4 linked regions of the Homo sapiens genome follow. The protein of the gene in region 1 purifies or fractionates together with the protein of each later gene. This does not show direct contact. Each region holds a gene or a part of one and is shown on either strand. Other genes may lie near its edges.

Evidence for each region. The genes of interacting proteins can lie anywhere in the genome.
Region 2: the proteins of PPP1R18 (region 1) and OGA purify together in Homo sapiens (affinity purification with mass spectrometry; 3 studies listed by BioGRID and IntAct, with this or other methods). This does not show direct contact.
Region 3: the proteins of PPP1R18 (region 1) and RASIP1 purify together in Homo sapiens (affinity purification with mass spectrometry; 3 studies listed by BioGRID and IntAct, with this or other methods). This does not show direct contact.
Region 4: the proteins of PPP1R18 (region 1) and ZDHHC5 purify together in Homo sapiens (co-immunoprecipitation; one large-scale study listed by IntAct). This does not show direct contact.

Annotation. Positions count from the first base shown.
Region 1 is NC_000006.12:30,683,846-30,687,810, reverse strand, and holds the start of PPP1R18 (phostensin), read left to right. Parts: upstream 1-1,165; 5' UTR 1,166-1,764; coding exon of another isoform or gene 1,765-1,792; coding exon 1,793-3,403; intron 3,404-3,965.
Region 2 is NC_000010.11:101,808,445-101,811,944, reverse strand, and holds part of OGA (protein O-GlcNAcase), read left to right. Parts: intron 1-1,630; coding exon 1,631-1,761; intron 1,762-3,500.
Region 3 is NC_000019.10:48,734,111-48,737,610, reverse strand, and holds part of RASIP1 (ras-interacting protein 1), read left to right. Parts: intron 1-2,059; coding exon 2,060-2,415; intron 2,416-3,500. UniProt on the Homo sapiens protein: Required for the proper formation of vascular structures that develop via both vasculogenesis and angiogenesis.
Region 4 is NC_000011.10:57,695,614-57,699,113, forward strand, and holds part of ZDHHC5 (palmitoyltransferase ZDHHC5), read left to right. Parts: intron 1-306; coding exon 307-430; intron 431-1,147; coding exon 1,148-1,260; intron 1,261-2,945; coding exon 2,946-3,500. UniProt on the Homo sapiens protein: Palmitoyltransferase that catalyzes the addition of palmitate onto various protein substrates such as CTNND2, CD36, GSDMD, NLRP3, NOD1, NOD2, STAT3 and S1PR1 thus plays a role in various biological processes including cell adhesion, inflammation, fatty acid uptake, bacterial sensing or cardiac functions.

The DNA.
Region 1 (3,965 bases):
GGTTGAAGCTAGAAAGAGTCGGGGCAGCAGCTCTGGTAGGGGAGGGAGCATCCAAAACCTCTGGCTTCTGAGCGCCTCTCCTGCCGCCCATCCACAAAGCCCCCCACAGCCTGGCGGCTGCCCTCGACCCCGCAAAACAAAGGACTTCAGAGGCTGGACCTACAGACCCAGATGAGAAGGCAAAAGCGTAGGGAGGAGCGGCAGGAGATGGGAAGGGCGGGCCCCGCTCGGAGCAGCTGCCGCTTCCTCCCAAAGTCCCACGAGGGGCCTGAGTCACGGGCCACCGCCCTGGGTCGGCGAGCTGGGGGAAGGGATCTGGACACCTGGCGTGTCCGGGCGGGAAGCTGGTGAGGGCCCCTGGGGACAGAGCGGAGGACCAGTGGTTGGGGCGAGAAGAGGGCAGTCCCGCAGCGAGTCCCACGCGGGGTGGGAGGGATCTAGGCCCCGCCCTCTCCTCGGCTCCGCCCTGCGCCCCCTTCCCTCTCCTCATTGTCCTTAGACAAAGCGGTCGCCGCCCCCGCCCGGCCCCCTGGTCTCTGTCTCCGTCCCTCCTCCTTTGCTGCCTCTTTCCCTCCTCCTCTCCCTCCCTCCTCCCCTCCCTCCAGTCTCCGGATCTCCCTCGGTCCCTCTCTCCTCCTCTTCCTCTCTCTGGACGCCCGGCTCCTCCGCACCCCCTCCCCCGGGGGTCCCGCGGCCTGTGAGTTGACTGAGGGGCTCAGACTTGGGGAGTGGGTGTCTCCTCGCCCCTGTCCTTGCTCCCGTCCCTGGCCCGGACCTTGGCTGTCTCCTCTTTGTGCCGAGATTGTCAGTCTGTGCGGCTACAGCGGGGTGGAGACGGCCGGCTCTGTCACGGCTTCATGAGAGCGGGGACGGGGCGCAGGACTTGCAGGCGCCGGGGAGAAGAGACATGGAGCCGGCCCTTGGCACTCTGGGGTCGCGTGGGGCAGTCGGTGGGGGAGGCAGGCGGTGGTGACAGGACAGGGTGGGGGTGGACGCCAGGGTTCTGGGAACGCGCTGGCAGCCCTGACGCCCGGGTTCCGAAAGTCTCGGGGGTGGCTATTTCCCCCGACCCGCCTCGGGGGCGGAGTGCGGGGCAGAGGGGTGGGGGCTGGGGAGAGGCGTGGCCCGAGCGGTGCTGGAAGCGGAGCCGGGACCTTTGGGGCCCGCGCTGAGACGCGCCCGGCTGCTGCCGCCGCCCTCCTTTCCCCTCTTCCCTGGTTTCCCTTCTCCTCTAGACCTGTTCGCTCTCCGCCCCTCCTTGCCTCCCCAACACCCCCTCAGGTCCCGTTGCCTCCTGGTCCTTTCAGGGATTCCTGGTCCTTCCTTCCCACACTAGCCTCCCTGGGGTATCGCTGAGGCAGCCTGGCCTGCACCCAGGTTCCCCTCACCCCTGCCACATTTCTCTCTTCTCCCTCACGCCAACTTTCCTTTTCGCCCTTCTCTCTCTTTCTCACATCCTAGAGACGGTCTTTAATACGCATTAACCCTGTGCTGCCACATCTGGCTCCTGCCCTCATTGCCTCCAATCCGGACTCTTCCTCTCACATCACCCCCACCACCCCCAACTTGGGCTCACAACTTCTCTTCACTTTTTCCATTTCCCCAGTTCTCTGCCTTCCGTCTTTCCCTCTGTCCTCATCCTTAGCCCCTCTGCCCTGCTTTGTGTCCCACCTCTCCCCCTCCACTTCCTCTCCTCCCACCCTCAGTCTCACCCCCGGGCTGTCTCACTCTCTGGAGCCTCTCCTTCCTGTTCTCTGTCCCCAGTGCTCCCTACCCTCACCTCAAGACGACCATGGCCACCATCCCAGACTGGAAGCTACAGCTGCTAGCCCGGCGCCGGCAGGAGGAGGCGTCCGTTCGAGGCCGAGAGAAAGCAGAACGGGAGCGCCTGTCCCAGATGCCAGCCTGGAAACGAGGGCTCCTGGAGCGCCGCCGGGCCAAGCTTGGGCTGTCCCCTGGGGAGCCTAGCCCTGTGCTAGGGACTGTAGAGGCTGGACCTCCAGACCCGGATGAGTCTGCGGTCCTTCTGGAGGCCATCGGGCCAGTGCACCAGAACCGATTCATCCGGCAGGAGCGGCAGCAGCAGCAGCAGCAACAACAACGGAGTGAAGAGCTGCTAGCAGAGAGAAAGCCTGGGCCTCTGGAGGCCCGGGAGCGGAGACCCAGCCCTGGGGAGATGCGGGATCAGAGCCCCAAGGGAAGAGAGTCAAGAGAAGAGAGACTAAGTCCGAGGGAGACCAGAGAGAGGAGGCTGGGGATAGGGGGAGCCCAAGAGTTGAGCCTGAGGCCTCTGGAGGCTCGGGACTGGAGGCAAAGCCCAGGAGAGGTGGGAGACAGGAGCTCCCGACTGTCAGAGGCATGGAAATGGAGGCTGAGTCCTGGAGAAACTCCAGAGCGGAGTCTGAGACTAGCAGAGTCTCGAGAGCAAAGCCCCAGGAGAAAAGAGGTGGAAAGTAGACTGAGCCCAGGGGAATCTGCCTACCAGAAGTTGGGCCTGACAGAGGCCCATAAATGGAGACCTGACTCCAGAGAGTCTCAGGAACAGAGTTTGGTACAACTGGAGGCAACAGAGTGGAGGCTGAGGTCAGGAGAAGAAAGACAAGACTACTCGGAAGAATGTGGGAGAAAAGAAGAGTGGCCAGTTCCAGGGGTAGCTCCAAAAGAGACTGCAGAGCTGTCCGAGACCCTGACAAGGGAGGCCCAAGGCAACAGTTCCGCAGGAGTGGAGGCAGCAGAGCAGAGGCCTGTGGAAGATGGCGAGAGGGGCATGAAGCCAACAGAAGGGTGGAAATGGACCCTGAACTCCGGGAAGGCTCGAGAATGGACACCCAGGGACATAGAGGCTCAAACTCAGAAACCAGAACCTCCAGAGTCAGCAGAGAAGCTTCTGGAATCTCCCGGTGTGGAGGCTGGAGAAGGGGAGGCTGAGAAGGAGGAGGCGGGGGCTCAGGGCAGGCCTCTGAGAGCCCTGCAGAACTGCTGCTCTGTGCCCTCCCCCCTCCCACCAGAGGACGCTGGGACTGGAGGCCTGAGACAGCAGGAAGAGGAAGCAGTGGAGCTCCAGCCCCCACCACCAGCCCCTCTGTCTCCCCCACCCCCAGCCCCAACTGCCCCCCAACCTCCTGGGGATCCCCTCATGAGCCGCCTGTTCTATGGGGTGAAGGCAGGGCCAGGGGTGGGGGCCCCCCGCCGCAGTGGACACACCTTCACCGTCAACCCCCGGCGGTCTGTGCCCCCTGCGACCCCAGCCACCCCAACCTCTCCAGCCACAGTTGATGCTGCAGTCCCGGGGGCTGGGAAGAAGCGGTACCCAACTGCCGAGGAGATCTTGGTTCTGGGGGGCTACCTCCGTCTCAGCCGCAGCTGCCTTGCCAAGGGGTCCCCCGAAAGACACCACAAACAGGTAGGGAAGCAGCCAAGCCAGACTTCTTAGAAGTCCACTTGTCAATTTTCTCTGGACTCTGGTCTCTTTCTTTTTTATACCCCTGTTTTCTTGTCTTCCTCTATTCTTTCTTGTTAATTCCTGCCACCACCCTTCCTCGCTCTGCACATACACCCTTCCTTCTCAGAGCCCTCCTTTTCCATTTTGAGCCCAAAAGATCCTGCCCCAGCAAAGGCTGTCTCTGGGTGTGTCTCTTTCAGGGTGTGCCAGGCTGCTCATTCTCCCTTCCCTTGGGCTCTGAGTTTCCAACCCCCTTTTCTTTCCTTCCTTTCCTGAGTGTGACCTGCCCCAGCCCATCCAGTGGGAGAGCCTAAAGTGACGAGCTTGAATCAGTGAGGGCAGGGTCACCAGGGTGAGAGCACTTGCAGTTTTTCTGGGGAGAAGGGATAGGGAGCCTGGGGTGGTGGAGGGGGTGGGGTGGGTTTGTGTTCTAGGGAGAAACTGCAGGGAGAAGTGAATGGAGAAAGGTCCAACTGCCCCGTGGGAAGGAGGGCAGAGCTGAATAGGGACATCCTAGGATGGA
Region 2 (3,500 bases), on another chromosome or scaffold:
CTGGTAATGAAACTTAATGTGATCAATAATCAAAATAGAGTAAAAATGACTATCTTGAGATACTACTGAAAATTATTCAAAAATATGTCTTATAGTATATACTAGTAGTAGTTAAGTTGATTTAGGAAAATTGTCAATTGATAATTTTAAAAGGTTAAAATCTATAATTAATGTTTTTCCCATAGATAGAAACAGGTCAAGATTGTTAAGGCCATGACTTAACTCTGGTTCTTTTTCTTTTTCTTTTTTTGGAGACAGCGTTTGTCACTTTGTTACCCAGGCTGGAGTGCAGTGACTCACTGCAATTTTGATCTCCCCGGCTCAAGCAATCCTCCCGCCTCAGTCCCCCAAGTAGCTGGGACTACAAGCGCGGGTCACCACACCCAGCTAATTTTTGTATATTTTGTAGAGAGAGGGGTTTGCCATGTTGCCTGTGCTGGTCTCAAACTCCTGAACTCAAGCAGTCAACTTGCCGTGGCCTCTCAAAGTGCTGGGATTACAGGTGTGATTCATTTTTTTTTTTTTTTTTTTTTTTTTTCATTTTTTTTCATTTTTTGAGATGGAGTCTTGCTGTGTCGTCCAGACTGGGGTGCAGTGGTGCGATCTTGGCTCACTGCAACCTCTGCCTCCAGGGTTCAAGCAATTCTCCTGCCTCAGCCTCCCTAGTAGTTGGGATTACAAGTATGCGCCACCACGCCTGGCTAATTTTTGTATTTTTAGTAGAGATGGGGTTTCACAATGTTGACCAGGCTGGTCTCAAACTCCTGACCTCAGGCAGTCCTCCTGCCTGGCCTCCCAAAGTCCTGGGGTTACAGGCATGAGCCATTGGGCCTGGCCTACCCTGATTCTTAAGAAAGCATTTTCTTTCTTTCATATTATAAAGTAGTTATGTGTAGGTTTATTTAGTTAGGAATTCCAGCTGTTCAGAGATGGCAAAACAAAAAAAAAAAGCAAGATCCAGTACCATGGCTCATGCCTGCAATCCCAACACTGTAAGAGGCTAAGGCAGGCGGATCACTTGAGGCCAGGAGTTCGAGACCAGCCTGGGCAATATGGCAAAACCCTCATCTCTACTAAACAAAAATTAGCCGGGTATGCCTGTAATCCCACCTACTCAGGAGGTGGAGGTTGCAGTGAGTCAGGATCGTGCCACTGCACTCCAGCCTTGGGCAACAGAGCAAGGCTCTCAAAATAAAAAAGCAGCGGCTGCATTTTATGCCTTTCAAATGCTGCAGGAAATAGAAATGGCTTAAGTTCAGTAAGAGAATTGACAATTCAGTGTTTTTGAGAAGTGGCAATGAAAGGGAGGAAAATGTTTATTGATTTTAGCCTGTTTCCCCAAAAGGATAAGAAACTATTTGGAAGTGAAAAAGAAGGGCCTCTTATTTTCTGTTGGTTCAGATTTCAAAGGTGTGAAAACTATTCTTTTTCCCTTACTGTGACATTAAATCACTTCAGGCTTGTACCATTTTGTATGGCCTGTTGTTAAGTTGGACATGACAATTTGTAAAATGTGAGGATCTTTTCCTTTCTTGTAAGTTAGAAGAAATAACCTCTTCAGTTAAACCTTCAGTGAAGGTTCTTTTAGTTTTCTGTTCTGCTTTCTAAAAACATAGACTCTGTTCTTTAGAGCAACTTATGACTCTCATCTCTGCTGCACGAGAATATGAGATAGAGTTCATCTATGCGATCTCACCTGGATTGGATATCACTTTTTCTAACCCCAAGGAAGTATCCACATTGAAACGTAAATTGGACCAGGTAACTCCTTACTTTTTATTCATTTTTCCTGACTATGTACTTGAAACTAGAAGTTTACTCAGTTGCTTTTACGATGTTAAAAGGAAATCAAATTCCTATTTCTTTGTTTTCTTTTTTTGTTTGTTTGTTTTGTTTTTTGAGACAGAGTCTTGCTCTGTCGCCCAGACTGGAGTGCAGTGGCACAATCTCGGCTCACTGCAACCTCCTCCGCCTCCCGGGTTCAAGTGATTCTCCTGCCTCAGCTTCCCGAGTAGCTGGGACTATAGGTGCGTGCCATCATGCCTGGCTAATTTTTGTATTTTTAGTAGAGACAGGGCCTTCACCATGCCAGCCAGGCTGGTCTCGAACTGCTCACCTCATGATCTTCCCAAAGTGCTGGGATTACAGGTGTGAGTCACCATGCCTGGTTTTTTATTTCTTTGTTTCTATAAGAATTTTTTTTACTTTGAATGCTTTTTTTTTCTTTTTTTTTTTTTTTGAGACAGAGTCTTGCCCTGTTGCCTGGAGTGCAGTGGCCCAATCTCGGCTCACTGCAACCTCCACCTCCCAAGTTCAAGCGATTCTCATGCCTCAGCCTCCTGAGTAGCTGTTACAGGCACACCACCATGCCTGGCTAATTTTTATATTTTTAGTAGAGACAGGGTTTTGCCACGTTGGCCAGGCTGGTCTCGAACTCCTGACTTTAGGTGATTCACCCACTTCAGCCTCCCAGAGTGCCGGGATTACAGTCGTGCGCCAGTGCACCCAGCCTTGAATCCTTCTGATAGAGGAATATTTTCCAAATTAAGTAAAAAGAGCTTTACTGGAGGTACTAGTTCTTCTCAAATTTCAGTTTGCATAAGAACTGCCTTAAAAGAATGATTAGAAGTGAAGCTTGGAAGAATGCTGACTGCTGGACTTTATTTCCCAAATGGATAAGGTGGGGACCGGGAATCTAGGTGATTGGTGGTCAAGAACCACATTTTGAGAAATTATATATACCCTAGGCTGCTTGGCTTGAATTTACACCTGAGATTACAGAAACAGGGTTTTACCTATTAGACATTAGTTTCTTCAATTATATGGACGAAGAGATGTCTGGAAATGGCTAGTTTCCCAAGATGAGAAGAAAAACAGACTAGGTGAACCTAATTGAGTGTAAAGTCTGCTTAATGTAAAAGCTGCAGACTTCCTTTGGTCCAATGTAGGGGGCTTCCATTTTCCTTTTTTTTTTTGAAACTGAGTCTTGCTCTGTCGCCCAGGCTGGAGTGCAGTGGCGCGATCTCAGCTCATTGCAACCTCTACCTCCTGGGTTCAAGCAATTCTCTGGCCTCAGCCTCCTGAGTAACGGGGATTACAGGCATGTGCTACCACACCTGGCTAATTTTTTTGTATTTTTAGTAGAGATGGGGTTTCACCATGTTTGCCAGGCTGGTCTCGAACTCCTAACCTCATGGTTTGCCCGCCTCGGCCTCCCAAAGTGCTGGGATTACAAGTGTGAGCCACTGCGCCCGGCCCCATTTTTCTGTTATTTTAGTTTGCTGGTTTTTCTATATACATGTCTTATTTCTTTAGGCAAAGATTTATATGGGTGGCATTAAAATGTCTGGTAAAAAATTTAAGGCAGTTGAAATTTTCATGAATGAAGTTATTTTACTATTTGATAAAATTCTATTCTTTCTGATTCATACCTGGTTAGGTTTATCTGCAAAGGGATCAGTGTGCCTTTTGGGACTAGGACACAGCCTGGCTTTTTCATG
Region 3 (3,500 bases), on another chromosome or scaffold:
ATCAGGCCTGCTGGGACTAAGATGGGCGGAGCCGCTGAGGGGCCGGCCTTGGATAAGACGGCCTTAGGCTGGGTTGGCTGCCAAGTGGGATCACATGGGAAAGGAAGGGGCTGAAGGAAGATATCACTGTAGAGGCGAAGGAAGGCCTGGAACAGAAGGTAGAGTCAATGGTCAAACAGCTGGTGGTGGACCGCGCCTGGCAGGGGTGGGGCCTGGCGCATTGAAAGCACGGGTCTGCTCAGGGAGCCTTCTAAACGCTTTTCTGTATCTGAGCTTCCTTTTGGGAGATAGAATGTTGTAGCAATTCAACTGATGGGCTTTGAACTGGGGTTTGAATTCCAACCCATTCTGTGCCAGTTAATCTCAGTAAAATCCTAGGTGAGGATTCAATGGGATAATATATTCAATGTATATAAAGGGCCTAGCACAGGGCTTGGCACAGAGTAGGTGCTTAATAAAGAATGACGATTATAAGCATTGTCTCCGCCACCCCCTCGACAAAGTATCCATTGAGCACCTGGTGTAGGCCACACATTTTCCTTTTTGTTTTTTTGTTGTTGTTGTCGTTGTTGTTCGAGATGGAGTCTTGCTCTGTTGCCCAGGCTGGAGTGCAGTGGCACGATCATGGCTCACTGCGACCTCCACCTCCCGGTTCAAGCAATTCTCCTGCCTCAGCCTCCCGAATAGCTGGGATTACAGGTGCCCACTACCACGCCTGGCTGATTTTTTGTATTTTGAGTAGAGATGGGGGTTTCGCCATGTTGGTCAGGCTGGTCTCGAATTCCTGACCTCAAGTGATCCACCCACCTCAGCCTCCCAAAGTACTGGGATTACAGGCGTGAGCCACCGCGCCCAGCCTGGCCACACAGTTTTCGGGGCACTGGGGAATACAGTGGGGACGTTGACAGATGAGGTTTCCACCCTCCCATATCTCACAAGCCTAGTGGGAAACACATCAGTCCATTCATTCAGCTCATTTCCCCTTGGTGCCTACTGTGTGCCAGGGTTCCAGCTGGGTCCAGAAAAAGCTCAGAGTACCCAGTGGTGCAGTCACCTGCTTCAACTTGGACTGTCAGGGAAGGGTGTTTAGGAAGAGGTGGTTTCAATCTCCTGGAGGGCAGGGTCTTCTCTGTTATCCAGTGACTTGAACAGTTCTAAGCATGTAGTAGGTAGTCAATAAATACTTGTTTTGTTTTGTTTTGTTTTTTGAGACGGAGTCTTGCTCTGTCGCCCAGGCTAGAGTGCAGTGGCACGATCTCGGCTCACTGCAAGCTCCGCCTCCCGGGTTCACGCCATTCTCCTGCCTCAGCCTCCCGAGTAGCTGGGACTACAGGCACCTGCCACATTTTTTGTATTTTTAGTAGAGACGGGGTTTCACCGTGTTAGCCAAGATGGTCTCGATCTCCTGACCTTGTGATCCGCCCGCCTCAGCCTCCCAAAGTGCTGGGATTACACGCGTGAGCCACCGCACCCGGCCTAAATACTTGTTAAAAGAACAAATGGGCTGGGCGCTGTGGCTCATGCCTGTAATCCCAGCACTTTGGGAGGCTGAGACGGGAGGATCACAAGGTCAGGAGTTCGAGACCGACCAGTCCGAGACCAGCCTGGCCAACATGGTGAAAACCCATCTATACTAAAAATACAAAAATTAACCGGGCGTTGTGGTGCGCGCCTGTAATCCCAGCTACTTGGGAGGCTGAGGCAGGAGAATTGCTTGAACCTGGGAGGCAGAGGTTGCAGTGAGCCGAGATCGTGCCACTGCACTCCAGCCTGGGCGACAGAGCGAGACTACGTATTGAAATAAAAAAAAAAAAAAAGAAGAACAAATGATTCAATGGAAAAGAATGAATGAAATTCCTGAGCTGAAAACTGCAAGATGGGTATTAATCAGGACAGAAAGGTGTTCCACGCACAGGGAACAGAATATGCAAAAGCCTAAATCCTAAATGTGGGAAGCAGCCTCACCTCTCTGCAACCAGTTCTTTGTCTCATAATCTGCAGCTCTGTGTCTATCCCTGTCTTTCCAGGCTCAGCCTCACTGTTCTCCATCTCTCCGCAGGCACCGGCGCCCCTTCGTGGCGGCCACAGAAGAACCGCTCCCGGGCGGCGTCGGGTGGGGCAGCGCTGGCCAGTCCTGGCCCGGGGACCGGATCAGGGGCCCCAGCTGGGTCTGGAGGCAAGGAGCGCTCAGAAAACTTGTCTTTGCGGCGCAGCGTGTCGGAGCTTAGCCTTCAGGGGCGGCGGCGGCGGCAGCAGGAGCGGAGACAGCAGGCACTTAGCATGGCCCCAGGGGCAGCCGACGCCCAAATCGGAACTGCAGACCCCGGGGACTTCGATCAGTTGACTCAGTGCCTCATCCAGGCCCCCAGCAACCGCCCCTACTTCCTGCTGCTCCAGGGCTACCAGGACGCCCAGGTAACCGCCGCCCCAGCCCCGCACGCCCAGAGCCCTATACCCCATCTGTTGGTGGGTGAGCAACAAAACTACAACTCCCAGAAGGCCCGGGGCGCGCTAGCCTCAAGTACTCTAGTGGGGCGTGGTCCCTCAAGGTTCCAGAGTAGAGATTCACAGGAGAGGGAGAGTAGATGGCTGAGAAAGAGTCCAATGGAGGAGGAAATAGGGAATAGTTCACTTTATTCAAAGTTGGAGGAAAGCACTGTCTTCATTAAGGAGATTCCATTGTAGAAAGAAGATCCCCGCCAGGCGTGCGGCTGACTCTCATAATCCCAGCACTTTGGGAGGTCAAGGTGGAAGAATTGCTTGAGGCCAAAAGTTCGAGACCAGCCTGGACAACATAGTGAGATCCTGTCTCTACCAAAAATTAGGCCTGGCGCAGTGGCTCACGCCTGTTATCCCAGCACTTTGGGAGGCCTTGGTGGGTGGATCACCTGAGGTTGGGAGTTCAAGACCAACCTGACCAACATGGAGAAACCCTGTATGTACTAAAAATACAAAATTAGCCGGGTGTGGTGGCGCACGCCTGTAATCCCAGCTACTCAGGAGGCTGAGGCAGGGGAATCGTTTGAACCCGGAAGGCAGAGGTTGCGGTGAGCCAAGATCGTTCCATTGCACTCCAGCCAGGGAGACAGAGCAAGACTCTGTCTCAAAAAAAAAAAAAAAGAAAGAAAAAAAAGCCGGGCGTGGTGGTGTGCACCTGTGGTCCCAGCTACTCGGGAGACTGAGGCAGGAGGATCTCTTGAGCTCAGGAGGTCGAGGCTTCCGTGAGCTATGATGGCACCACTGTACCATCACCAGCCTGGGTGACACACAAAGGCCCTGTCTCCAAAATAAATTTTTTTAATAAACTTTTTTTTTTTTGTCGGAGTCTCTCTCTGTCGCCCAGGCTGGACTCCAGTGGCGCGATCTCGGCTCACTGCAAGCTCTGTCTCCTGGGTTCACGCCATTCTCCTGCCTCAGCCTCCCGAGTAGCTGGGACTACAGGCGCCCGCCACCATGCCCAGCTAATTTTTTTGTATTTTTAGTAGAGATGAGGTTTCACC
Region 4 (3,500 bases), on another chromosome or scaffold:
CCCCATCTCTACAAAATAAAGTAAAATAAATTAACTGGGTGTGGTGGCATGTGCCTGTAATCCCAGCTACTTGGGAGGCTGAGGTGGGAAGAGCACTTGAGCCTAGGAGTTGCAGGCTGCAGTGAACATGATCATGCGTACCACTGTACTCCAGCCTGGTCAACAGAGTGAGACCTTGTCTCAAAAAAAAAAAAAAAATACATGAGAATTGACTCCCAAATACCTCCCTCTTATATCAATTTAATACTTTGAGTTGCCATAATGCTCAATTTCTAAATCTGATTTTCCCTCCCTTCATCAATCCAGTCTAAGGGAAGCCTGGAGATAACAGAGAGCCAGTCTGCAGATGCTGAACCTCCACCTCCTCCTAAGCCAGACCTGAGCCGTTACACAGGGTTGCGAACACACCTCGGCTTGGCTACTAATGAGGGTAAGGGCTGCCTTGATTTGCAAGATACTAGAACTAGGGGCAGGATTGAGAAGGTTGCTTATGAGCTGTGGAAGACAGGCAAGGGCTGGGAGATATTACTCGTGTTGTGACTTTAAACACCCAACAGTTGGTACTTGTGCTACTTTGCAACTGAAAGAGAAGAGAGGCCATTTAGCTATTGGCAGTGAATGGGACTTTTGCCGGGAAAATGGTCAGCCTCTAGGCAGACCAGAGAACATCACAGAACCTTTTTGGTGCATTTACCCACCCTGAATTCTGGGCTGGTGTGAGTCTTTAAAAGTCTTGATTTCAGCGAAGGGTATATCTATTCCTACCTTGTCCTCTCCCTGTACTTAAGGAACCCTAGGCAGATAAAGTGAACAACTCATAGACTAGACGCAGTGGCTCACACCTGTGATCCCAGCACTTTGGGAGGCCAACGCAGGAGGATTGCTTGAGCCCAGGAGTTCAAGACCACCCTGGGCAACATAGCAAGACTCTGTCTCTACAAAAAATTTAAAAAAGTTAGCTGGGCATGGTGGCATATGCCTGCAGTCCCAGCTACTCAGGAGGCTGAGGTGGGAGCCCAGGAGTTCAAGGCTCCAGTGAGCTATAATCGTGCCACTGCACTCTAGCTTGGACAGTAGAGTGAGACCCTGTCTCTTAAACCAAAAAACCGCTTGTAAAATAGTGCCCCCTTGGCCTTTTTTCTTGCAGATAGTAGCTTATTGGCCAAGGACAGCCCCCCGACACCTACCATGTACAAGTATCGGCCGGGTTACAGTAGCAGCAGTACGTCAGCTGCCATGCCGCATTCCTCCAGCGCCAAGGTACTGAGTACTCTAAGAGGTGGGGTAATAACATGCCAACTGGCCAGGCACAGTGGCTCATTCCTGTAATCCCAGCACTTTGGGAGCCCAAGGTGGGTGGATCACAAGGTCAAGAGATTGAGACCGTCCTGGCCAACATGGTGAAACCCCGTCTCTACTAAAAATACAAAAATTAGGCCAGGCGTGGTGGCTCACGCCTGTAATCCCAGCACTTTGGGAGGCCGAGACTGGTGGATCACAAGGTCAGGAGTTCGAGACCAGCCTGGCTAATGTGGTGAAACCCCATCTCTACTAAAAATACAAAAATTGCCGGGCACAGTGGCTCACGCCTGTAATCCCAGCACTTTGGGAGGCTGAGGCAGGTGAATCACGAGGTCAGGAGATTGAGACCATCCTGGCTAACATGGTGAAACCCCGTCTCTACTAAAAATACAAAAAAATTAGCCAGGCATGGTGGCAGGTGCCTGTAGTCCCAGCTACTCGGGAGGCTGAGCCAGGAGAATGGCGTGAACCCAGGAAGCGGAGCTTGCAGTTAGCCGAGATCATGCCACTGCACTCCAGCCTGGGCAGCAGAGCGAGACCGCATCTCAAAAAAAAAATAAATAAATAAATACAAAAATTATCTGGGCGTGGTGGGGGGGCACCTGTAATCCCAGCTATTCGGGAGGCTGAGGCAGGAGAATCACTTGAATCTGGGAGGTGGAGGTGGCAGTGAGTCGAGATTGCGCCACTGCACTCCAGTCTGGGTGACAGAGTGAGAGTCCATCTCAAAAAAAAAAAAAAAAAATTAGCTGGTAGTGGTATGCATCTGTAGTCCCAGCTACTTGGCAGGCTGAGGCAAGGAGAATCGCTTGAACCTGGGAGGAGAATTGCTTGAACCTGGGAGGTGGAGGCTGCAGTGAGCTGAGCTCCCACTGCTGTATTCCAGTCTGGTGACAGAGTGAGACTACACCTCAAAAAAAAAAAAAAAAAAAAAAAGGCCAAGCACAGTGGCTCAAGCCTGTAATCCCAGCACTTGGGGAGGCTGAGGCAGACGGACCACCCGAGGTCAGGAGTTTGAGACCAGCCTGGCCAACTTGGTGAAACCCTGTCTCTACTAAAAATACAAAAATTAGCTGGGCGTGGTGGCGGGGCGCCTGTAATCCCAGCTACTCGGGAAGCTGAGGCAGGAGAATCGTTTGAACCTGGGAGGCTGAGGTTGCAGTGAGCCAAGATTGCACCATCACGCTCCAGCCTGGGCTTAAAACACACACACACACACACACACACACACACAAACAAATGCCAACTGTTACGGGAAAAAAAGAAGATTAGGGGAAGGAAAAGGCAGAAGAAAGGACATTTCACTAATTGTTGGCATTCGTGGAACTCAATCTCCTTGATACTGTGTCCTTCATCAGACTGGGCAATATAGCATAATAGATTAGTGCTTGATCCGAGTTTATAACCCAGTTCTGCCCACGGGCGAGATACTCAGCCTTTCTACGTCTTGCTTTCTGTATCTGAAAAGGAGATGATATTTGCCTGAATTCAGTTTTTCTTGAGGGATTAACCCAGATAATGCATGTAAGAGTTCTAAGCTTATTATTGGCACATAATTCTCTTTTTGACCAACTCCTTGAGCTCTGGGGTCTAGCTTCTGTCACAAAAGGAGCACTAAGAGCCTGCTTTACTTTCTTCCTCAGTTGAGTCGTGGGGACAGCTTGAAGGAGCCAACCTCAATTGCAGAGAGCAGCCGTCACCCCAGCTACCGCTCAGAGCCCAGCTTGGAACCAGAGAGCTTCCGTTCTCCTACCTTTGGCAAAAGTTTTCACTTCGATCCACTATCCAGTGGCTCACGCTCCTCCAGCCTCAAGTCAGCCCAGGGCACAGGCTTTGAGCTGGGCCAGTTGCAATCCATTCGTTCAGAGGGCACCACCTCCACCTCCTATAAGAGCCTGGCCAACCAGACACGCAATGGAAGCCTATCTTATGACAGCTTGCTCACACCTTCAGACAGCCCTGATTTTGAGTCAGTGCAGGCAGGGCCTGAGCCAGACCCACCTTTAGGCTATACCTCTCCCTTCCTGTCAGCCAGGCTGGCCCAGCAACGGGAAGCTGAGAGGCACCCACGTTTGGTGCCAACTGGCCCAACACACCGAGAGCCCTCACCAGTCCGTTACGACAATCTGTCGCGCCACATTGTGGCCTCTCTCCAGGAACGAGAGAAGTTGCTGCGCCAGTCACCCCCACTCCCGGGC